Homo sapiens: one gene and its partners. The protein of the gene in region 4 purifies or fractionates together with the protein of the main gene of each other region. This does not show direct contact. Each region holds a gene or a part of one and is shown on either strand. Other genes may lie near its edges.

Evidence for each region.
Region 1: the proteins of GPR17 (region 4) and TBC1D15 purify together in Homo sapiens (co-immunoprecipitation; 2 studies listed by BioGRID and IntAct, with this or other methods). This does not show direct contact.
Region 2: the proteins of GPR17 (region 4) and SLC33A1 purify together in Homo sapiens (co-immunoprecipitation; 2 studies listed by BioGRID and IntAct, with this or other methods). This does not show direct contact.
Region 3: the proteins of GPR17 (region 4) and ABHD17B purify together in Homo sapiens (co-immunoprecipitation; 2 studies listed by BioGRID and IntAct, with this or other methods). This does not show direct contact.
Region 5: the proteins of GPR17 (region 4) and ARFGEF1 purify together in Homo sapiens (co-immunoprecipitation; 2 studies listed by BioGRID and IntAct, with this or other methods). This does not show direct contact.
Region 6: the proteins of GPR17 (region 4) and BTAF1 purify together in Homo sapiens (co-immunoprecipitation; 2 studies listed by BioGRID and IntAct, with this or other methods). This does not show direct contact.
Region 7: the proteins of GPR17 (region 4) and TMEM87A purify together in Homo sapiens (co-immunoprecipitation; 2 studies listed by BioGRID and IntAct, with this or other methods). This does not show direct contact.

Annotation. Positions count from the first base shown.
Region 1 is NC_000012.12:71,842,759-71,846,258, reverse strand, and holds part of TBC1D15 (TBC1 domain family member 15), read right to left. Parts: intron 1-3,500. UniProt on the Homo sapiens protein: Acts as a GTPase activating protein for RAB7A. Does not act on RAB4, RAB5 or RAB6.
Region 2 is NC_000003.12:155,847,928-155,851,427, reverse strand, and holds part of SLC33A1 (acetyl-coenzyme A transporter 1), read left to right. Parts: intron 1-3,500. UniProt on the Homo sapiens protein: Acetyl-CoA transporter that mediates active acetyl-CoA import through the endoplasmic reticulum (ER) membrane into the ER lumen where specific ER-based acetyl-CoA:lysine acetyltransferases are responsible for the acetylation of ER-based protein substrates, such as BACE1.
Region 3 is NC_000009.12:71,869,694-71,873,193, forward strand, and holds part of ABHD17B (alpha/beta hydrolase domain-containing protein 17B), read right to left. Parts: intron 570-3,500; coding exon 390-569; intron 1-389. UniProt on the Homo sapiens protein: Hydrolyzes fatty acids from S-acylated cysteine residues in proteins. Has depalmitoylating activity towards DLG4/PSD95. Has depalmitoylating activity towards GAP43. Has depalmitoylating activity towards MAP6. Has depalmitoylating activity towards NRAS.
Region 4 is NC_000002.12:127,644,952-127,648,952, forward strand, and holds the start of GPR17 (uracil nucleotide/cysteinyl leukotriene receptor), read left to right. Parts: upstream 1-1,201; 5' UTR 1,202-1,293; intron 1,294-2,695; coding exon of another isoform or gene 2,696-2,793; exon of another isoform or gene 2,794-2,888; intron 2,889-3,085; exon of another isoform or gene 3,086-3,644; intron 3,645-4,001. UniProt on the Homo sapiens protein: Dual specificity receptor for uracil nucleotides and cysteinyl leukotrienes (CysLTs). Signals through G(i) and inhibition of adenylyl cyclase. May mediate brain damage by nucleotides and CysLTs following ischemia.
Region 5 is NC_000008.11:67,337,282-67,340,781, reverse strand, and holds part of ARFGEF1 (brefeldin A-inhibited guanine nucleotide-exchange protein 1), read left to right. Parts: intron 1-3,500. UniProt on the Homo sapiens protein: Promotes guanine-nucleotide exchange on ARF1 and ARF3. Promotes the activation of ARF1/ARF3 through replacement of GDP with GTP. Involved in vesicular trafficking.
Region 6 is NC_000010.11:91,982,770-91,986,269, forward strand, and holds part of BTAF1 (TATA-binding protein-associated factor 172), read left to right. Parts: intron 1-1,431; coding exon 1,432-1,635; intron 1,636-3,500. UniProt on the Homo sapiens protein: Regulates transcription in association with TATA binding protein (TBP). Removes TBP from the TATA box in an ATP-dependent manner.
Region 7 is NC_000015.10:42,209,947-42,212,190, reverse strand, and holds the end of TMEM87A (transmembrane protein 87A isoform 1 precursor), read left to right. Parts: intron 1-441; coding exon 442-483; 3' UTR 484-1,744; downstream 1,745-2,244. UniProt on the Homo sapiens protein: Potential monoatomic ion channel gated by mechanical force, implicated in normal touch sensitivity through the generation of mechanically activated currents.

The DNA of each region.
Region 1 (3,500 bases), on a different chromosome or scaffold from region 4:
TATAAAACTTCCAATGATGGCCTGCTGAAAGCAACAGAAACTGTATTTTGTTTTTCTCCTCTAGCAAAGGAGCTATGTCAGATATACCTTATTAAAAGAGTTCTGGTGACCACAGCAAACATTTTAGAATAAATTTTCTCACCTCTAATTTAGCAAAAGTTTTAATTAAAAAGCAAAAATGAGGCAGAAAAACAGATAAATTCAACTTTTAGACAGAATGAACTTTTGCACAATCCAACTCAAGAACATCCTTCCTGACACAAAGAGCTGGAAAAAATAAGGAAGTTTCACAATACAGTAGTAATTTTTTATACTGTCCCTACACTTAATACTGAATTTTTACTTATATTATGATTATTATAATTTTTATTTATTTCCAAAAATGGAAGATAAAGGAAAAATTCAACCCAAATATTTTAAATGTAGCAGTAAGTTCAGGGTAAAATTATTGCCCTAAATCATTCTCCAAACTTGGAAACCCATCACCTATCATACACAACATGCATTCTTAACTTTAGCAATTATGTGAACTTACAGGCTAATATAACAACCAAAAAAGGTACAAAAGTTCAGTTTCTTTCAAAACTATTTGGCATACAGATGATAATTTGAGCATATGGTTCCAGAAAGCATCCCCAGGAAATGCGAGACTGAGCATCCTAATGGGCTCCACACCCAAATATCTAAGCACCTACTTGGTATCTCCATTTCAATAAGGCATCTTAATCTCATGTGTTCTATCTAAACCTGCTCTTCTTCTATATTCCCAATTCTGTCAAAGATATCTCATCCACCCACTTATTCTAAATGCTTCTTTCACCATCCAGACCCTATAACCTAAGTCCCTCGAACCTTCTCCTCTGACACTGGCCCCTTATCATTTCTAGCCTAAGTCACTAAAATAACATTCTGATCTCTCTTCTTCTGATCTAGTCACCTTCCAATAATCTGCCTAAGGTGCATAATGTATAACCACTGCCCAAACTAACCTTTACAAAATGTCCATCTGGTTATACCACACAGGGGCTTAAAAATCTTCTGACTTCACCCTTTACCTCTACAGTGAGGCTATACTTCCTGATACTCCCCAACACATAAAACATTTCTGCCTTGGGCCATTGTGAACTCTGTTACCCAAAAGCTTTGTACCTTTTTTCAGGTGTATTCTGTTCCATCTACCTGGAACACCCTTTTATCCTTTCTCTCTGCAAATAACTTCTACTAAATCCTTCAGAAAAGAACATAAGCAATAGCCTGCCCAAATTCTTTGAACTACTCTCCATTCCACTTAATCTGATTTAGAAGTTTCTTTACTCATGCATTCAGCACATTTATGAGCACCAACCACATGCTGGAAATAAAAGGTGTCAGTGGCAAAAACACACACAAGGAAAAGTGTCTGACTAAACTAGCAGTATTATGTAAGCCAGTAAATCAATGTATATAGTAGAGTGTAATAGAGGAATGCAGAGAATCCTGAATGAGGTACCATTTTCAGTTACTTCTTCAATAAATATACAGTAAACGCCTACCATGTGCCAGGTACAGAGCAAGCTACTAGGTGTAAATAAGTAAGATTCAGTCACTGCCTCCACAGCAGTTACAATCTAATGGGATGACAAGAAAACAGACAATTACAACATGTAATTGTACCAACAGGCTGCCACAGCAAGCCCTAATAAATGCTATCTTACCTAGATTTAGGAGGCTCAGGCAGAGTGAGAATCAGGAAAACTTACTTAGAGCGACATATAAACTGAGATCTAAATAATGGCAATTTTAATTAGTAGAGGGTATAGGGAAGCAGAGGATATATGTTCTTAGCAGAGGATATATTTTATACAGAGCAGTAGTTCACTGCATGATTGAAACCCAAATACCAGAGAGTAGAGTCTAAATAGTTTAGAAACAAAAACAGAGACCAGATCAGATCATAAAGGGCTGCATAAGCCATGCTAAAGAATTTAGGAGTTTGAAATTTATCCTGAAGACAGACAAACGCAACTAGAAATTTGCCTTTTCTAAGCCAATAAAGTGGCTGCAGGGCCAAGAACGAACAGCTGCAGTAATCCAGAGAGGGAGAGACTCATGGTTGCTTGAACTAAGGCAATGGTAGTGGGGATGAGGAAAGGCAGATGGCTTAGAAAGATATTTAGAAGATCAAAATGACAAGACTTCATGACTGATTAGATGTGAGAGGTGAAGGGGAGAACAGTCAAGGACAAAACTGTGTAGATGAGGTTATTTACTGAGAGGGAGAACAGAAAGAAGAAAGCTGAGTTTTATTTGGGATGTGTTAATGAGTAATGACTATGGAACTAAAAAAAATGCACAATACAGGTGGTTGTAAGGGCAATACATCACAGATAGTCTGAAGTGAAGAATGTTTTGAGATATAGAGAATGGTACAACTCTCAAGGAAGAGCAACTGGCAGAACTATTATTGCTTCTCAAGGATATTGGTGTGCCAAGCGAAGTCAGATAGGAGACGTGAATAATTTAAGAGTTGGAGGAGATACACAGTCAGCGCTGCAATGAACCATGATCACACCACTGCACTCCAGCCTGGGTGACAGAGCAAGACTGTCCCAAAAATAAATTAACAATAATAATAATAATAATACAAGTCTGTGTTTAACCACCCTTGTATCCAAAGAACTCAGCACATAGGAGGTACTAAAACGTTTGTTGAACTAAAGAATGCCAGAAAAATTTAAAAATAAGACATACTCCTATTATACCCTAGTTAACTACCATGTTAAAAGATCCAGTCTAGGAAAACAAGTCTCCAGGAAAATCTAGATACTAAGAATATTCATCTTTCTAAAGCACAAAAATTTTATAGGACTATGAGCATATTTAAAAAGAATTGGTTAGGGCCAATTTTAAGCTACAAAATAAATTGTTACTAAAAATGACATCACAAATTCTAATTAAGAAAAAAAAACAGCTGATTTCCCTATTGTTTCAAGTAATTTTCTTTTTCATTTTTTGAAACACAGTATGCCCTTCGCCCAGTCTGAACAAGTGGCACAATCTCAGCTCACTGCACTGGTTTCAAGCGATTCTCCTGCCTTAGCCTCCTGAGTACCTGGGACTACAGGCGTGTACCACCATGCCCGGCTTTTGTATTTTTAGTAAAGACAGAGTTTCACCATGCTGGCCAGGCTGGTCTCAAACTCCCGACCTCAAGTAATCCACCCACCTCAGCCTCCCAAAGTGATGATTACAAGCATGAGCCACCGTGCCCGGCCAGTAATTTTCAATAGAAAGAAATTCTAATACACTAACAGGAAAACCTAGAGTGAATGAAGTGTACTACAATAGGATTTTACAACTCTGAAACAAAAGAGCTATTAATGGACCCATTTCTCCCACTCTAATCCCTCCTCATTTTCTTTTTCTTTTCTTTTTTTTTTTTTTTTTTTGAGACAGGGTCTTGGTCTGTCACCCAAGCTGGAGTGCAGTAGCACCATCATAGCTCACTGCAGCCTCCAAGT
Region 2 (3,500 bases), on a different chromosome or scaffold from region 4:
ATTAAAAAAAAAAAAAAAATAGCTGGGTGTTTTGCGAAGGCCTGTAACCCTAGCTACTCAGGAGGCTGAGGCAGGAGGATTGCTTCAGCCCGGGAGATTGTGGCTTCAGTGAGCTATGATCCAATCATTGCACCCCAGCCTGGTCAACAGAGTGCAACCCTGTCTTAAAATTATATATATGTATTTTTTATATGGAGTCTCCCTCTGACACTAGACTGGAGTGCAGTGGCAGGACCTCAGCTCACTGCGATTTCCACTTCTCTAGTTCAAGCCATTCTCCTGCCTCAGCCTCCTGAGTAGTGGGATTACAGGCATGTGCCACCACACCCAGCTAATTTTTGTATTTTTAGTACAGACAAGGTTTCACTGTGTTGGCCAGGATGGTCTCGATCTCCTGATCTTGTGATCCGCCCACCTCGGCCTCCCAAAGTGTTGGGATTACAGGCGTAAGCCACTGCGCCCAGCCAAAATAAATTAATTAATTAAAAATAAAATTAAAATAAAGAAGTCAAGGCTGGTGCAGTGGCTCACGCCTGTAATCCCAGCACTTTGGGAGGCTGAGGTGGACAGATCACCTGAGATCAGGAGTTTGAGACCAACCTGGCCAACATGGCAAAACCCCTTCTCTATTAAAAATACAAAAATTAGGTGGAAGTGGTGGCATTCACTTGTAATCCCAGCTACTCAGGAGGCTGGGTGGGGAGAATCGCTTGAACCCAGGAAGCAGAGGTTGCAGTGAACCGAGATCGCACCATTGCATTCCAGTCTAGGCGGCAGAGCAAGGCTCCATCTCAAAAAAAAAAAAAGAATAAGTCAGTGTAAATTAAAATCCAGTGGCATAATTTTGATCCATTAGGGAACAGTTGTGGCTAAGGGAGTATAAATATAATAACTCTTGAACTCATAACATTATTCTCTGGAATGATGTTTTACCAATCACTCTTACATTAAGAGAAAGTTCCAATTTAGCTAATTAGCAATTTAGTTTCCATGGCCTCTTAAACCTTGATTTCACTGAGGCTTTCTCATCTTAAGTAACATCATCTCCTTAATCCTCTGTGGTGATATAAACAGCAGTCTCAGGACAAAATGAAAAGCAGACACATAAAAAGCAACAAACTGGCTGGGCGCGTTGGCTCACGCCTGTAATCCCAACACTTTGGGAGGCCAAGGCAGGAGGATCACAAGGTCAGGAGATCAAGACCATCCTGGCCAACATGGTGAAACCTTGTCTCTTCTAAAAATACAAAAATTAGCCCGGTGTGATGGCATGCACCTGTAGTCTCAGCTACTCAGGAGGCTGAGGCAGGGGAATCGCTTCAACCTGGGAGGCGGAGGTTGCAGTGAGCTGAGATCGCGCCACTGCACTCCAGCCTGGGCGACAGAGAAAGACTCCATCTCAAAAAAGAAAAAAGCAACAAACTGATAACAGACAGTATGCATTCACAGAGTATTTCTAGGCAGTGAATTGTTATTATTATTATTATTATTATTATTATTATTATTATTATTATTATTCTGAGATGGAGTCTCGCTCTGTCGCCCAGGGTAGAGTGCAGTGGTATGATCTCAGCTCACTGCAACTTCCCCCTCCAGGGCTCAAGCTATTCTGCTGCCTCAGCCTCCCTAGTAGCTGGGATTATAAGCGTGTGCCACCATGCCTGGCTAATTTTTGTATTTTTGGTAGAGATGGGGTTTCGCCATGTTGGCCAGGCTGGTCTTGAACTCCTGACCTCAAGTGATCTGCTCACCTCGGCTTCCCAAAGTGCTGGGATTACAAGTGTGAGCCACTGTGCCTGGCTGTCACTTGTTATTTTGAATTGCCCCTTTTTTTTTTTTTCCTGTGGAATTTGAACTTTGTTCTGCAGTAGATTCTATAACTAGCTTACTTTTTAATTCAACTGTTTATATCTGTAGTGGACTGCTGTTTCTGGTTCAAACATTTTAGTTGAAAGTTAGAATTCCTATAGTTTCATTCTCCTTTTTATGACTGAACATACCACATTTATAACATTGTTCTTTCTGGAACTTATTAATAGGATAAGAAAAACCAGTGGTTTTGAAAAAGTTATATAGCACAGGAAGAATTATATGATGGAAATATAATTGCTTAGGTGATTAAAGAGGAGCTAAACACTGAGGCAATGTTTAGAAAATCTGAGTATTAAAAGGAAGCGTAATTGTTTTCTTTTTTTAATTCTAAAATATGTTCTGGCCAGGTGCAGCGGCTCACACCTGTAATCCTAGCACTTTGGGAGGCTGAGGTGGGCAGATTGCTTGAGCTCAGAAGTTCAAGACCACTCTGGGCAACATGGTGAAACCCCAGCTCTACTAAAAATACAAAAAATTAGCCGGGTGTGGTGGCGCATACCTGTGATCCCAGCTACTCAGGGAGGCTAAGGCACTAGAATCACTTGAACTGGGGAGGTGGAGGCTGCAGTAAGCCGAGATCACACCACTGCACTCCAGCCTGGGTGACAGAGCAAGACTGCATCTCCAAAAATATAAATAAATAAAAAATAAATGAAATACTATCTGTAATTAACAGTTTTGATTGTTACAGATAAATGGAGATGGAATATATTGGGTAGATAGATAATGTAAATGAGTCATCTGAGTTGGAGGGGACAGAGATAATTTGAGAAATCCATGCCCCTCTAAAGGTGAGGAGCGTCAACTCTAGTAAGTTGTAGTTTTGTGACAATAGGATCCCAAGATTGCTAGATCTTCTTTTTTTGTTGTTGTTGAGACAGAGTCTCACTTTGTTGCCCAGGCTGGAATGCAGTGGTGCGATCTCTGCTCACTGCAAGCTCCACCTCCAGGGTTCACACCATTCTCCTGCCTCAGCCTCCCGAGTAGCTGGGACTACAGGCGCCCACCACCATGCCCTGCTAATTTTTTGTATTTTTAGTAGAGACAGGGTTGCACCATGTTAGCCAGGATGGTCTCAATCCCCTGACCTTGTGATCTGCCTGCCTCGGCCTCCCAAAGTGCTTGGATTACAGGTGGGAGCCACCATGCCCGGCAAGATTGCTAGATCTTAGGCATATTCAAGAGAAACTAGAAATTCCTTTTTTATTTCCTAATTTTACAAACACTTCTTAGGCTCATATAAAAACATGTCTTTAGCTGAGCACAGTGGCACGCATCTGTAGTTCCTGCCACTTGACAGGCTGAGATGGGAAGATCATTTGAGGCCAGGAGTTCGAGGCTGCAATGCGTTATAATAGTGTCTGTGAATAACCACTGCACTGCAGCCTGGGCAACATAGCAAGACCCATCTTTAAAAAAATCTGTCTCATCTATCATCTCTCTATCTGTCATCTATCTAATCTATGTCTTCAGGCCAGATCTAGCCTGTAAACTGGTAATTGAGGCCCTCTCCTCTAGCAGCAGTAGTAACAATTAGAAGTGATTGGAATAGGGAGCAGTGTATTTGGGTTTAGGAGCAGGGAGCAAGACGGTTTAATGACAGAGAAGGAAGCTAAAGATATTAGAGT
Region 3 (3,500 bases), on a different chromosome or scaffold from region 4:
TCACTGGATGGCCCTATCCATTAGCACCTCAGGGCAGAAACATGGTAGTCATGTTCAAGTTTTTCTCTTTAGCATCCTACACCCAGTCTGATACTCAGTTCTGTCAAATTTATGTTTCAAATTAATTCCCTTGTCTCCAATACTAGTGCCACCACCTGAGGTGTAAGGCCCTCAGCAATTTTCATCTGGATTACTACTCCTCAAACATTTCAGCCTTCTGACTGGTCACCTGCTAATACCCTCTTTACAAATTAATTTTTCATAATTTCTATGTGCTAATATATATAAAATGAAGTTTATGGTTGAGTGAACTGTGTCATGAATACTTTAAATGATGAAAAAATTCCCAAGTTTCTTGGAATTTAACTATTTTGAATATTGCTACTTACTTTGGGAATGCATCAAAACAGTAGGTCTTCTTGGTATCAGGAAAGGCAACTCGCATTCCCGAAGTCAGAGGAGAATGAAGAATAACAGCAGCACTCTCATATCGAGCAGCAAGATCCACAGACGGTACTGTCCCTATACTTTGGCCATATATAATCACATTTTCAGGGCGAATGCCATATCTACAAAGTTCAGGCGTTAAAAACAAAAACCAAAAAAGTTGGAGTGATATGAAATGTTCCATCATTCCAAAGGATTTGATCTTAGAATAAGACAATGTCAACTAATCCATTTTTTAAACTTAAGTTTCTTAGCTATTACTGTTAGTTTTAACATTACAATAAAGTCTGTATCATCAGTTTATTTCATGTGTTTCTCTACTTCATCTTTTGGAAGAATAATTGCTGAGGTATTTTAAGATTTCAATCTTAAGAAATAAATTTATTAAATAATTTATTACACTATAATATTTCAACCTAGCTTACTGCTGACTAAGCTTGGGGCATATCACTAATATTTTAATGAACTGATGTTGAATGAATAGGTCATATTTATTTTCCGTTCAGTGTAACAAAAGTTATTTATTTCTCCACACATCAAGAGTGGCTCATTTTAATTTCCAAAATTGGTCATATTGATGAACTGTTACATATAGTTATGGTATGAAATGAATATATGTATGGTTTTAGTAAAGGGCAAATTATGATTTTACGATTTTTCTTAAAATTGATCTTTGCTTAGTTGTAGAAATGGACTAATGGTTGAAAAGATAAAAAAGAATTCCAAACACCACATGGTCCAATTATTTATGATTAGACTTTACGCTAAAATTACAAGGTACTATTTTAATCCCTTTAAAATGGCCACAGGTTTAAATAGATGAAAACTCATTGACTCAATAAATATTTATTGGGTACCTAGTATGTTCAAGGAACTGCTTGCTACTTGTCTACAGTATAATCATCCCAAATGTAAACTACTGCAAGTGTAAGTACAGTGCTACCTGAGCTAATGAATGTGGGCTTAAAGGTTATAGTGACATTAAATACACCTTTCCACTTAGAAGGCAGACAGCAGTCACTCTGGCAGCTAAGAACATAACAGCTGCTTTTGGAAATCTTTTGCAAAGGTAAAATATCTTTCTAAGAATCTGGATATTCACCAGGAAAGAGCGAGGGAAACTGTCCGTGTGTTCTCTTCCAGGGGCATAATACTATTTCAACTATACAGGTAGTAACACAGCTCTCCCCATATAGTTTCTTCAAGTCAGTACTACACAAGCATTTGTATAGGACACAGAAAGTGGGGCTCTGTCTACTTCAAATTGACTCTAAATATTAGCAAACTCAGAAAAGCTTTTTTCTTTACAACAGACCTAGTTGCACATATTTCATACGAATGAAGAAATTAGGAGAATGAACATTTGCAGCATGACCACAGTTCTTGAGGCTGCATTGTTGCTGTCAGCTGAATATCAGCATTGTTGGTGGCAATCATGAAATTTGGGCTACAGCTAGCAATGACAATGCTCAAGGATAGAGTCGCAGAGGTAGCTGACAATTAAGCATGAGGGGACTCACAAGAGTAACAACTGCCTAACAGTATGAGCTAGAAAGGAGTTTAGAGACCATCTAATCTAGAGTCCAGCTGCCTAATGAGCAGATCTTCAAAGTCACCAGTAGATGACAGCTCTATAATTAGAACCCAGGTATACTGACTCCCAGTTCAGTGTTTTTTACCTCTGAAGCACACAGATGAGGAACTCAAGGACTTTGTGGGAAAGGTGCATAGTGAATGCCAGGCCCCGAGTTTCTTTTGGTCCATCAGAAGGTCAGAAATTGGAGTTATTATGGATATCCAATTTTCCCAAAAAGGACATTCCAATGTTCATTCATCCCAAAAATGAACATTATTTAAGTTCATTATTTATTTTCTCTCTCCTGGTTACTTAAGTCCTAACTTTTAATCAGGCAAATAAAATAAAAGGCATGTATTCTAATTACACACATTTCATTAGATGACAGAATTCCAGAATTGGAAAAGATCTTGGGGATCATTTAATTCAATCTCTTCATTAAACAGATGAGGAAACACAGGCTCAGAGAAGTAATATTTCCTAAAGTACCTACACTTATGAAACTCCAACTATATTTTGGTTTCAACACGAAAGAAAACACAGGTCTAAAATTCTAAAATATAAGTGCTAAAATAGTATGTGGGATTATTGATGAAATCTGCCCATTCCTGATTAACACTGGCTATCAAATATGTTAAAAAAATTAAGGCTGAAAATCATTTTTCAAAGTTTTCTTCAAATTGGTAAATGCCAAGATTAAAAGAAAAGAAAAGAAAAAAACAGTAAAGTTGACCACTTAAAAAATGGGATTTTTTCATATAGACACAGAACACTGAACTGAATACTAACATGTTTTGTTTGAGTAAAGTGACCCTTTTGCGTTACTGGGAAGCACTAATAATGAAAGCTGGCTATCAGTTTTAACTTAGCACCCTTTAAAACTTCATTATTCCACTGAAGTTAACCTTTAAAAGTGTGAACCTTATCACTCAATAAAGCTATTTTTTTAATTATAATACTTTCTTATAGTTGTTATACGTTATTCAACTGACTGACTCTAAAAAGTGGGCACTCAGTTTCTGTTTGTTTTAAGGCTTGATGGAACTGATATCAATATATGTAAAAGATTTTTATTTAAAGCAGTTTTTAATTTATCAATTAAACAATAACTTTACCATCCCCCATCAACTCTTTACCTACTACTTGCCATCTTTTTTTCCTTATTCCCCATATTTATGTTTTTATATAATTTCAGTTGATTTTAAGAATCCCTTTTATGTAGAACTTCGCTATGAGAGCATAACTTTATTACATTTCTTTGGAGGGAAAAATAGTTTTAAAGATATTTTTAATATCTTTAATAATATTAACTACTTTATTATTAAAATTGAGGAAATTTTTCCTGACTAAATGAAATCTTTAATATTTAAACATTAAATTAGAAACAGTAAGTTTTCTTTATATCCTATAGCTTCAGTCTAAAACATCCTGGAAGTCAGATATTTTATTTTCATATAATATAAAGAATAGCCTATAT
Region 4 (4,001 bases):
AACAGCTTCTCAACAGACCAGATCACAGCATCAGATCTAAAGGTGGCCTTCAGAATTCTTTTTCAGGTTGAATTAGGATCAAATCTAAGAATTCTAAATTCAAAATGCAGCAGAAAAACAAAACACACACACACACGGAGCCTAAGTTCTGGAGTGACATGTGCTTGGGTTCAAATCCTGGCTCTGTTGCTTCCTACTGTTTGTTGATGGGTGAGTTTCTTCATTTGCCTGAGCCTCAGTTTCCTTGTCTGTAAAATGGGGCAATAATCCCAGCTGCACAGGGTGATGTGAAGAGACAAATTTAAGACACTGCCCCTTAAATGCTAGCCACATACATACAGTTTTCAATGTTTAAACAACAAAATGTAAAGTCTTTTGAAACCAGGAAGGGTGATTTGGTTTCCCATGTTGCTGGATGTATCATTTTCAGAAAGACAGAGAGAAATGAACTTTGTTCACTCAGTCTCAGAGGCGGCCGCCGGCAGCATTCAAAGGCACCCCAGCCCGGAGCCACCCCAGGGAGGAGCCCCAGGCCAGCGGTCAGATTCATGGGCTTCCGTGCAGAAGGGGAGCTGCACCGGCGAGCACCCGGCCTCTGAGCTGAGCCGCATCCTCACGGACAGGACAGCGCCCCATTATGAGGCTCCTGCAGCTGTTCCTCGCTCCAGATAAAGGCCATGATTTATTCTGTGTGCCCAAATGGGGCCTCATTATACAGGGCAGGACACAAGGACCCTACAGCAAGTGTCCTCAAAGAGTCGCCTCTCACTCCGTGAGCAAGACTCCTCGGCCTCCCACCCTCCGTTCACAGGCCCCCTCCGCCGTCTGCGGGCGCAGGCCTGGGAGCGCCGCCTGTTGCCATGACAGCCGGCCCCTCCCTGCCCCCCATCAGTAGGAAATCATCCCCTTCTGAAACGTCCTGTTGTGTCCCTCAGCTCCAGCCCAAGCCCCCCACCCAGCCCCCGCCTGCTCTGAGTCTCTGAGACAGTCACACACTCAGACTATGTGGCCAAGCTGGGGGCGGGGGGCATGGGCTAGGGACACACTAGAATATTCACGCTCCGGTGGCAGCAGCAGCAGCAGCCAGAGGAGCAGCCCGACACAACAAGGGACCCCTCAGGAATGAAGCAGCCTTTCAGGGCCAGAGGGGCTGTGGTCTCCCTTCCTCTCCTTAAATAGCCAGCGTTCCACCCACAGCGGCAAGGAGCCCCCTGCCACCACCGACACCCACGGGCGGAGATCACCTGCTGCCCCGCAGACCCCTGTCCCTTCCTCCCGGACCAGCAGCTAGAGGTAAGGGGCAGGCTGGGTGGGGTGGACTGGGAGCCCAGGGCTAAGCAGAGGAAACACTCAGCGGGGAGCCCTGCCCAGGGAGACAGGCAGCAGCCTGTCTCGTCCCATCTCTTTGGTGATGGTCTGACCTGTGCATCGAAGGCTGACCACAGTCTGAATTCACAGCAGCCCACAAAGCGGTGTTTCGTCCCTCTGATGGGGGCTTGCAGAGGGGAAGTGGCTTGCCGGCAGTCCAGGCTGCAATGACAGCACCGCTGCCCCTAACCATTAGGCAGCCTTGACCCATAGAGGAGCCAGATGCCTGGGAGAGGGCTCGGGCCAGGGATGGAGTGGCGCTAATGCAAAGGAAACTGCCACCACCTGGCCATGGCGCTGCCACCACAGGCCCTCCCCGAGGCCACACATGCCCACCTGCCACCTCCACAGAGGCCTATGACCTGTCCTAGATGCTCGACTCACCCACAGCCACGGGACCCAACACTGCCCAGGCCCCGGCCCATGCCACGCCCTTTCCTCTTACGGACACCGGCTCGGTGGCCGTCTGACCAGTGAGTCGTGAGGAACCAGCGAGTCTAGACTGAAGTTTGTGTTTCTAAAGGGCAACAGAGAGTGAAGCGGGGCCCATCTCAGACCAAACTGCAACAATCAGTATCAGAACTCCTCAAACGGGGGACAGAAAGGGAGAAGAAACCTCAGCAAACCTGAAACCAACCAGAAAGCTGTTTAAAATGGAGTCTCAGTCCCAGAGAGAGCGAGGGGCACGCCCTTCGGCCCGGGCAGGAAGTGGAGGGCAGTGCCCAGGCTGAGGCCCCCGGGCTGGAGGCAGGAGGCACCACAGGCCCACCTGGTGCCATGAGATATGCCACCCCTGCCGTCACTCAGGGCCCTGAGCCCAGTAACACTCTGCCGTCACTGTCCTGAAACTCTTCCTTTTTGAGCAAGGGGCTGCACATTCTCATTTCATACATGGGCCCCTAAAATGAGGGAGTGGCCCCAGGGCCAGGAGGGGGTGCTGAGCCTGGGAGACAACTCCATGGCAAACTCTGAGACTGAGTCACACTCCCCACCCTGGCGGTCTTCCAGGGAGTGAGACCGTTTCCCCGGTCTCACTTCCAGCTCCAGGGCCAATGTCCCCTGGTCAAGTGACCTAAGACAAGTTAGCAGACACTCAGCCTTGACTCCCTAACCTGCAACATGGGGCTAAAACTGGTTTGAGCCAGCACAGGCAGGCCCCCACCATGCCAGGCAGAGTGGTCAGTCGTACCTATGAGCTGCTCTCTCGTGGGGCCAGGTGATGCCTGCACTGTGGGGCACAGCACAGGCCTGAGGGACAGCCTGGGGTGGAGGGCACCCACCTTGGCCCCTTCCCACCCCCAGGTTCTAACAAGGGCCCCTCACTCACTGGGCCCCCTCTCCTCTTCCAGTCTCCAGGGCCTCCCCGCACACACCTTCCTCCTCTCCTGCCAACCTGAAAACAGCACACCTGTGTGCCCCTCCCATCTACCATGGGCTGTCCTCTCTGCTTGCCCATGCGTCTGCCCTGGAGCCCTGTTCCTCCAGTCTCCGGGTCCTCACCCCCAGCACATGCAACACGACACCCTCAAAGTCATGGGCCCCCCTCCCCTGCCACCGTCCCACCGGTACCTGCTCCCTGTTCTCCCCTGCCTCACAGGCCCTGTCAAGGGCTGTGTTCCTCCCTCCTTTTACCTCTCCTCCACAGCCCCCTTCACAGCCCTCAGCCCTTCCCCAGGGCTTCAGCCAAGCCTGTCTCCCTCTCCCAAGCATCACTCACCCCGCCTTCTTCGGCCCTCAGCTCTCCGCCCTCACCGTGGTTTTAGCAGTCCTAGGGAAAGTGCCAGCCGAGACCAGCCAGACCAAGTCAGAGTACTGTGGAACCTGGATTCCTGGGGAATGGGGTCCCCATGAGGAACTCCACATTGGACTAAGAACAGACCCTGTTCCTGGAAGCAGCAGGAAACCATCTCTGGTGTTAGAACTTCAGGCATCTTGAAACACTCTGAAGCCGGGGGCAATCTTTTCAGGTAGGGGAACCTGCCTAGAGAAATAGCTAAAAGGTAATATTATTAGGTAGTTGCCCTCCCCTTTGCTTGAGGACATTGATGGCCAGGTGCTCGGGCCAGCCCTCACCCTCCATGTGAGGGCCACAGCAGCTGGCCACTCGCTCTCCTGAAGGAAGGGTGCGGCCCACCCTTCCCTAGGGCTAGGGCCACCACCATGCCTGCTTCTCCTCCATATGAGGATGGCTCCAGCCTCCTCCTCGAGGGGCTGCTGTGTCCATGAACAGTCACCATGCCCTCTCTGCCCCGTGCCACCAGCATCCTGAGACAGCCCTGTGGAATCAGTAAGAGGAGAGGGGCTGGGCGCAGTGACTCATGCCTGTAATCCCAGCACTTTGGGAGGCCAAGGAGCACTTTGGGAGGCCAAGGAGAGAGGATCACTTGAGCCCAGGAGTTTGAGACCAGCCTGGGCAACATGGCAAAACCGTCTCTACCAAAAAATACAAAAATTAGCCGGGTGTGGTGGTGTGCGCCTGTAGTCCCAGCTATTCAGGAGGTTGAGGTGGGAGGATCACTTGAGCCCTGGAGGTTGAGGCTGCAGTGAGCTGATTGCACCACTGCACTCCAGCCTGGGTGACAGAGGGAGACCTTGAAAAAGAGAAAGAAAAAAAGAAAAAAGAGAGGGAGGGG
Region 5 (3,500 bases), on a different chromosome or scaffold from region 4:
ATGTGACTATCCAGGGAAGGGCTAGGCACCACAGTACTTTATTTACTTGAGATGTATGAGGCATTTTTTCCCACATTTCGTAAAGTTACATTTAGCCTCCAACAAAGCAAAATCTCAGTAATCTCATGGTAGCTAATCCCTGGTGAACTTTGTTTCTTCCCTTGCAGTCTATCTACATCACCACCCAAACATAAATTGATAAGCATAACTCATTTTGTCTTTGCAGAAAGTATATTTTGCAGGAAGATGGTATTCCCACAAATGTATTGTCCTTGAAGACCGTTAGAGACTTATCTTCTCCACTTCACTATTGAGACCTGGGCCAGGCCCGCTCTGGTCTGTTGGTAATCTATGTGGCCATTAAGCAGGATGGGAAAGCAAACTGAAAAGGCCTGATTTAGTCCTCTCGGTTCTATAGATTGTGAGTGGGTAGGTGTTGGATGGTGAAGATACAGAGATCATTTTGTGGGTGGTGTTATAACCCTTCTAAATACCCACCTGTCTGTCTTCATTCTTTCCCCAAATATTTATTGAGCATACAGCTGAAGGGAGATGGACAGTTAACAGGAAAATACATAGTATGTCAGACATTTAATCCTTTTTTGTTTGAAAATCATTGTATTGGCATGTGAGTAGATTTCTGAGTATTGCCATTCAAAATTAATTCAGCTACCTTTTAACATATGGCCAATTATAGATGGATTTTCTGTAAACTATACTCATGAAATTACAGCTTATTGTGTATTCTTAAAACTTTTTTTTTTGTCAAAAAGTATAACTTATGAAACAGCATGTAGATTAGGGGAAATTTTACTTCATTAAAACAATCCATTCTCAAAGACTTCTCAAGGAACTTTTATTTTCACAGAAAGAAAAATAAACCTTTAAAGGGATGCAGAGTTAATGTAAAACGTTTTTCAAATTTTCTTATGTCAGACTTCATTTTGAAGTAAAGAATGGTTAAAAAAGAAAGAATCCCCCCCCCCGCCCCACACTGTTACACTGTTACAACTGATAAGAAGCCCACAGGCCCAGGAACAGCTCCAGGTTGCCCTCTTTTGGTACCTGCCCTACTACAGCTCTCTGCAGAGAGAGGGAGTCTAGGCTGCCCTAGCTTAGCCTGATCCATTCCTGCTCTCGAGAATCCTGACTTAAAAATAGTCTGGCCATCTGCTGGCAGATGAGACAACAGCTGAGCTATTTTTAGTTTCAAAGAATTTAGGATTGTTGTGGGATTGGGCTTGAAGGTAGCATTGTTTATCTGCTAGGGAGGGTGCAGTTGGGACTTATTCCAGTAAGGCCTCTAAGTTTCAGGAGTTTCTTTTATGTTAGGGTTGTGACTAGTTCAGCTTATGCTTTCTGACATCGAATGAAGAGTATCTATGAAGATACTCTGCAAATGTTAGGATGAAAGAGTTCAAGGTTGGAAACTGTCACTGATACACAATAAGAGTGAAAAAGTTGAAGAGCTGACCAGAAGAAGGTTTTAAAGGGAAGGGAGGCATATACTGGCAGTGATAAGGGTGGGTTCCCAGGAGGTATATGGGAAAATAATGGAGACAAAATTGTTAGGGAAGTAATTTTTGCATCAGACAGGGTATGAATTTATATTGTTCATCATATTATAAAGTGATCCTGCTGACTTAGTTTTCTTATATAAGAGTCTATTACCTGTAATTATAGTTTCATCCAGAGATACAATATTGAGACTCAAACTTTTCAGAACTTGCTTCCTTCTGCCCCTTTAATCCCACCCTTATTTTTGTTGGTGGAGTTATAAAAAAGATACGTCAGTGGAGGGGAAATTACTTGAATGCTTTGGGCCCTGGTTTTATGCTACTTTTGGTAACTATTAATTTTCATCACTCTTCACCATTTATGAAAAAATGATTTATCCCCAAACAATATCCTGCCATCAGTGAACACCTTAATTATAATTTAAATCCATTAACAAATCTCCGTTTAAGCCTTCTTTGATATCTAAAGTAAAAGGTGTTTTCAGTAAGCCAGGCTACCTGAATTTTTGAGATGGGTAGAAGAAAAGAGTATAATTAATGACATAACCGAAAGATTGATCCTATTTGTATTTGTTCTTTTCTTTCACATTTCAGATTTGTTTTTAGGACACTTGCTCTAGAATAGTGTTGACTGAAATAAATGTTGCAGAGTACAAGTTCTTAGAGAAGCTCTTTGAAGAAAATAAGTTTGGGTTGAAAAAATAAGTTTGGATTATAGTGTGTAATCTGTTTCCATTTGGGAAATTTATAATGCACATGAACATAGTTAAGATTCTGAAAAGTCCTCCAAGAAAGACACCTGCTCAATTTTGTTTAATGAAGTTCTTCCTGAATTTATGTGATCCTTTTTCATTGTTTGCTAACTCAGTTAACTCCCCTAGGATATGTTGTTCCTTGGAACTTACTTTGGGACACTGGGGAAAGAAAGACAAGTACAATAACCCTAACTACTGGTGAGACCATCTTCTAGAAGAGGTTTGGGGAAATCAGTGCACAAACCTGTGTTTCTCTAAACACAGGTTTGGGGAAAGTAGTAGATGTGTTAATAGTGTGGGAAGGAGAAGAAAGTCCGAAATAAGGAGCAGTAGAAATATCGAGATCAGAGGACTGTTTGCTGACTAGCTTTCTTTCCCACCCCATCTAGGGGCAGGTAACTCATTTGTGTCTCTTGGTAAGGTTTAACTTAGAGAGAAAATTGTGAATGGGAAATAATTTGGGGAAATATTTGTCATAATATTCCTCACATAATGGAGGAAGGAAGATATTTGAAAAGGAAAAATACATGAGTAAGTTATTGTTGCCATTCCGAACTAGGTATATATTTCAATCAGATATTTGTTGAACTCCTCATATGTTCCAGATACTACTTCATTGCTGGGTATACAGCAGTGAACCAAACATGCTTTCATAGAACACACATTCTAGTGGGGTGAGGGTGATAGTAACAACCTTATATCATCAGAAGAAAGAGTTCAGAAGGTTAAAGGGAAAAGGGTGGGAGTACTGATTTAGTTAGAGTTGTCAGGAAAGTCCTATCTGTGAGATGACATTTGAGCAAAGAAGTGACATAAGTGGGGGATTTAGTCTTTCAGATACTTGGATGAAATAGAAACAGGAAATAGCAAGATGGATGTGTGCTTGGTGTGTTTCAGGATGCAAGGAGGCTTGTGTGGCTGGGAGAGAGACAGAGAGAAAGATGGGAGGGGGTGGGCAGATTTGGGATTTTAGTGACAGCATGTTTATGTTTTTAAAGGCTCACTGTGGCCAGAGACCATGGGGACTTAGGCTAAGTTGGTGGTGGTGGAAAGGGTGATAATTGTGTGCATTTGGAATATATTTTGGAATCCACAGGATTTGCTGATGGGTTGGTTAACAGAGGGGATGGCATCCAGTCTTGTAGCCAGAGCTTCAGGGTAGAGGAAGATGGCATTCACCTCAATGGGGGACACTAGGATAGAAAAAGCCTTTGGGAAATAGATTTTT
Region 6 (3,500 bases), on a different chromosome or scaffold from region 4:
TTGCCCCAAAAGTAATAAAGACAAATTAAGTAAACCAATTTCCATTAGCTGTTAGGATTATTTACAACAGAAAAGTGAAAATTTTCGATGTATAAAAATCCAAGAGTTACAGAAAAGTGTCCAAATTATATTGAAGATTATTTCTCTCCCATTTACTTTTAACTCTGGACTTTTGTCTTAGAACCCCTACTCATACTTCCAACTACTAGTTATGCTCATACTTAATATTTGCTGTTGACTGTACAGTCTGTTAAGAAATATCCCTATTAAAAACCGCGTATATGTGAAAGTAGTCCAGAAACTATTGGTCATCCATTCCTCTATATGTCACTCAGGTATCACTGAAAACTACAAAGGATGAGGCTTTGAGTATTAGACATCCATCTGTGTGGGTAGTAGCAAAGGCAGAATTTTTGGTCACAGGAAGAATAACATCTCTGTATTTAAACCAAAATCTTCATGTTTCCAAATAAACCATTCCCTTCCAGCCTCTTTAACCGTTAACTTCTAGGGAGATGTATGATTTTGTATAAGACATACTTCTGTAAATCAAAGAAACTTTCTACTGGCTTTGTTTATTCCATTGACTGGAATTCTGGAAATTTAACTGTCTGCACTTGCTGTGAGAGTTACTTGTTACTGCCTGTTAGCAGTTTGTCAAAGCTGTATCTAAAAGTAATTGAGCCATGCTCCATTGCAGCTGACACCCCTGCTTGGCCTCTGGAAAGAAGCAAAGCTCATCTGTTTTTAGGCAGGAGTTGGTGTGCTGGAGAGGCAGTGATGCTATGTTTTTGTGCCTCTCAGACTTAGCAGCAAGTGTTGACAGTTAGGTTTCTGGACACTCACAGAGCTTCATGGACTTACTCTGTGAAGCCCAGGCTGATAACTGAGATGCCACAGAACCCCTCATGGCTCACCACTGAGGCCATTTCCTGTTGGTTTGGGGCAGGCAACAACCAGAGAGAGTGGGAAGGGTTAGTTAAATTTGGGGATAGATAAGTAGCTTTTAAAATTTATATCCACTTTTACAGTATGGCATGTGAAGCTTAGGGTTCAACTGTTATCTAATAATGAGTTTTTAAATAACATTTTTAATTAGTGCTTGATAGATTTCTTTTCTGATTTTTTTTTTTTTTACCATAATACACTTTAAAATCTGTGATATATATACACGTGTAAACTTTGGATAGGTAGAAAATGAAGTTGTAATAGTTCTGTGTGCATGTTCTGTAGTCATTCATGTTAAAATTTTACAATAATTTGGATGTAATACCTTTTTTTCTGTGCAATTAACTGTTGTTTGGAGAAGTAACAGAATATAGATTCAGTACAAGTAAGAATTTAGAACTTGGTAGTCTACAAATGACGATTTCTGTATCTATAAAGTTAATGTTCATACAGTTACCCTATTTGTTTTCTGTTGTATTTTAGGAGTGTAAAGCTGTTACCTTAGCTGTGCAGCCGCGTTTACTTGATATCCTTTCAGAACATTTATATTATGACGAAATTGCCGTTCCATTCACACGAATGCAGAATGAATGTAAACAACTTATATCATCATTAGCTGATGTACATATTGAAGTTGGTAATCGAGTAAACAACAATGTTTTAACAATAGATCAAGCTAGTGACTTGGTGAGTAAAGAAATAACTTTCTTAATTAGAGATAGAACATGAAATATAGGTTAGAAATTTGTCATGACATGTTTATCACAAAAACACATTAGTTTGTTGAGTCTGTATGTGGCTTGGTAGCCTGTCATCTCTACCCTTGAGAAAGGTTATTTCATTGTATAGGCTTTTCTTGAAATAAGAGAATAACAAAGAATTTTTTTTAAACCAAAATTCTGATAAATCAATGCACCTTTATTAGAAAAAGCTATTATATTTTGTCATTTCAGTTTTGCTTAACACTGCAGAGTATAGAAAAAACTGCTTCTACAAGTTCCTGAGTACTTCTTCCTGCTCTCAGCCTATAATGAAAATATTCAAACATATAGAAAAAGTGATGAAATTACATAACACTCATACTTAACAGCTAGATTTTATAGTTAACATTTTACCTAATTTACTTTATCACATACGTATTCACCTGCCTACCTCTCTATCCAACCATGAATCCATCCAGGGCAGTTTTTTTAAATGCGTTTCTAAGTAAGTTTCAGATATCAGTATACTTCAGGATTTTATATAATTAACTAAAATTCAGTATTTGTTTATTTTTTTTTGCTGTTCTGAGGAAAAATTTATGTGCTAAAGCACACAAATCTTAGGTGGACCATTTGGTGAATTTTGACAGATGCATATGCCTATGAAACCTGAACCACTGTCAAGATACAGAACATTATCATCACCACTTCCCAGTAATCTCTGCCTCTCCCTGCCACCGAGTAACCATTATTCTAATTCCCCCCCGAAGATACATTACTTTTGCCTGTTCTAGAATTTCATGTAAATGAAATCATACACTGTGCTCTTTGGTGTAAGGATTTTTCTTAGAATGGTATTTTTGAAACTAATCTGTGTTATATATATATATATCAATAACTTATTTTTTTTATTGCTTGAGTTTTATTTCATTGTATTATTATACCACAACTAGTTTAAGCCATTCTCCCGTTTATGGACACTTTGGCTGTTACCACTTTTTGTCTGTTGTGAAAAAAGTCACTATAAACGTTCTTCTGCAAGTCTTTGTGGACATCTGCTTTCATTTTTCTTGGGTAAATATGTAGGAGTGGAATTGCTAAATCATAAGATAGGTGTAGGTTTAGTTTTAGAAAAAACTACAGACTTTTCCCCAAAGAGATTGTATCATTTTACCCTCTGACCATCAGTATGTGAGAGTTCTGGTTACTCCACATCATCAATATTTGATGTGGTCAGTTCTTTTAGTGATTGTCTGATAGTGTTATTGTGGTTTTAATTTCCATTTCCTTGATGACTAATATGTTGAATACTTTCTAATTTTTTATTGATCATTTGTATATTTTCCTTTCTGAAATATCTTTTCAAAATCTTGTCTACTTTGAATTAGGTTGTTTGTTTGTTATTGAGTTGTGGGAGTTCTTTATGTATCCTGGATTCCAATCCTTTGTCAAGTAGATGCTTTCTGAATATTTTCTGGCAGTGAGTGGTTTGCCTTTTGATTCTCTTAATGCTGTCTTTGGATGAGCAGATATTTTAAATTTTGGTGAATTCTAATTTATCAGTTGTTTTCTTTCATGGCTATTATGTTGTGTGACTTCAGTAATTTTTTTTTTTTTAACTTTCCAAGTGGCAAAGGTATTCACATATGTTTTCTTTTGAAGTTTTGTCATTTAGTTTTTATGATTTATCATTCATTTGGAATTAATGTTTGTGTATAGTATGAAGTAGAGGTTGAGGTTTGTTTTTCTTACAGATATCTAATTTTTCCAGCATTATTTATTGAAAATACTTTCATTTCCCTATTGGATTGTTCTGGCACCTTTGTCAAAAACCAACTGAAGTTATATAAG
Region 7 (2,244 bases), on a different chromosome or scaffold from region 4:
AAAGTGTAGTAAAAAACACATAACAAATCAACCCTCCTAACCATTCTAAAGTGCAAAGTGCTAACTAGGTGCACGTCTTTGCCCTCATCCTTCACTGGGTCTTCAAGTGAAATTCCTGAATTAGAGGAGTTACACATTTTTATTAAAGCCTAATCTTATGTAAATATTTGTTTACATAAGATCTTAGCTGACTCTATACATTTCCTTCTGAGTGCTGATTTTCTGTCCAGAAGCCTAGAGCTTTTGATTTAGTTGTTCTTGGGTGAGGTCTGGACATCTGTATGTTCAAAATCTTCACAAATGTTTAGGAACCATTTCTCTAAACATTTAATTAACATAAAGTACTCGTGGAAGATGTTTGCTTGGATAGTCTGTATAGAAGATATTTGGAATATAGATCATTTTAACCTAATATACTTCAACCTTTTTTTTTTTCCCTAGGAACGAATGATCACACACTTTGAAAGGTCCAAAATGGAGTAAGGAATGGGAAGATTTGCAGTTAAAGATGGCTACCATCAGGGAAGAGATCAGCATCTGTGTCAGTCTTCTGTACGGCTCCATGGGATTAAAGGAAGCAATGACATCCTGATCTGTTCCTTGATCTTTGGGCATTGGAGTTGGCGAGAGGTGTCAGAACAAAGAGAACATCTTACTGAAAACAAGTTCATAAGATGAGAAAAATCTACGAGCTTCTTATTTACAACACTGCTGCCCCCTTTCCTCCCAGACTCTGACATGGATGTTCATGCAACTTAAGTGTGTTGTTCCTGAACTTTCTGTAATGTTTCATTTTTTAAATCTGACAAACTAAAAAGTTTAACGTCTTCTAAAAGATTGTCATCAACACCATAATATGTAATCTCCAGGAGCAACTGCCTGTAATTTTTATTTATTTAGGGAGTTACATAGGTGATGGGGGAAATTGTTAACTACCTTTCATTTTCCTGGGAAGTCAAGGTTACATCTTGCAGAGGTTGTTTTGAGAAAAAAGGGCCCTTCTGAGTTAAGGAGCCATAGTTCTATCAATGATCAAAAGAAAAAAAAAAAAAGAGAAACTGTTACAGTATGATTCAGATCATTTAAAAAAGCAAAATCAAGTGCAATTTTGTTTACAAATGGTGTATATTAAAGATTTTTCTATTTCAGATGTACTTTAAAGAGAAATATTAGCTTAACTCTTTTGACATCTGCTATTGTGACACATCCCATTGCTGGCAATGTGGTGCACACTCCGAAACTTTTAACTACTGTTTTGTAAGCCTCCAAGGGTGGCATTGCAGGGTCCTTAGGCAATGTTTTGTTTGCCTTTATGCAGAGAGGTGCTCCAAGTGCTGTGATTGAGCACCGTGCTAGAGGAACTGTAATGCTTCAGAAGTTGTAGCTTATACAAAGGAAACAGGTCCTGCTGGCTTAATTTAAACAGTTATTGCATGAAGTAGCGTGGAGGCCCTGGACTGCTGCTCGTTCTTTAGGATGGACTGTTCTGGTATCTGGTATTGGTTTAGAGACTGTTAATAAGGGACATCACAAGGTGATGGGATTCATTTGAAGCACTCTATTTCTGTTTTAATGGTTTTATCCAATTTTGCCTTCCCAAGATTTTTGTTCTACATAAAAAGTTCATGCCACTTTTTAATATAAAAAAATTTAACAAAATTAATGTATTTTTCTCATTTTTTTCAAACTTTTTCTAAAGACTCTTTCTGTCAAACTCATGAAAAATTTCTTTCTATGGCTTTTATTCTAGATTGTCTTATTTTCTGTTAAAACCAATGACCACATGACCACAATCTTCACTAACTCATACTGCAGTGAAAGTGTTAACCCTTAGGTAGTTTCTCTACAACTCTTTGCTATGGTGATTTTTAAAAAAGTTTCCTAGGAAGTATCTCTGAGGAACAGCAATCTGAAGAACTGACTATATTCTCATGCTAAGTCATTAGCCAAAAGCTGGTGGTATTGTTGCATGCTGCTATTGCATATTAAAACGTAGCAGATGAATAATAGTTGTAATGCAGCAGGATAGTTGGTCAAATTATTTTTTTAGGCTGCTTTGATGTTGACTTGAGACTAGGAAAAAAAAAAGCCCATTGTGTTAAGCGGGAGTGTATAGTTCAAGTTCTATAGCCTGGGCCCTGATAATTCTACTTACAGCTTTCTGTATTACTGGGAATAGATATAGTGTGTCATTTCTTAGGTTCAGAAGAAATTGATAGCTTTGCAGTAATCTGTAAAACAATA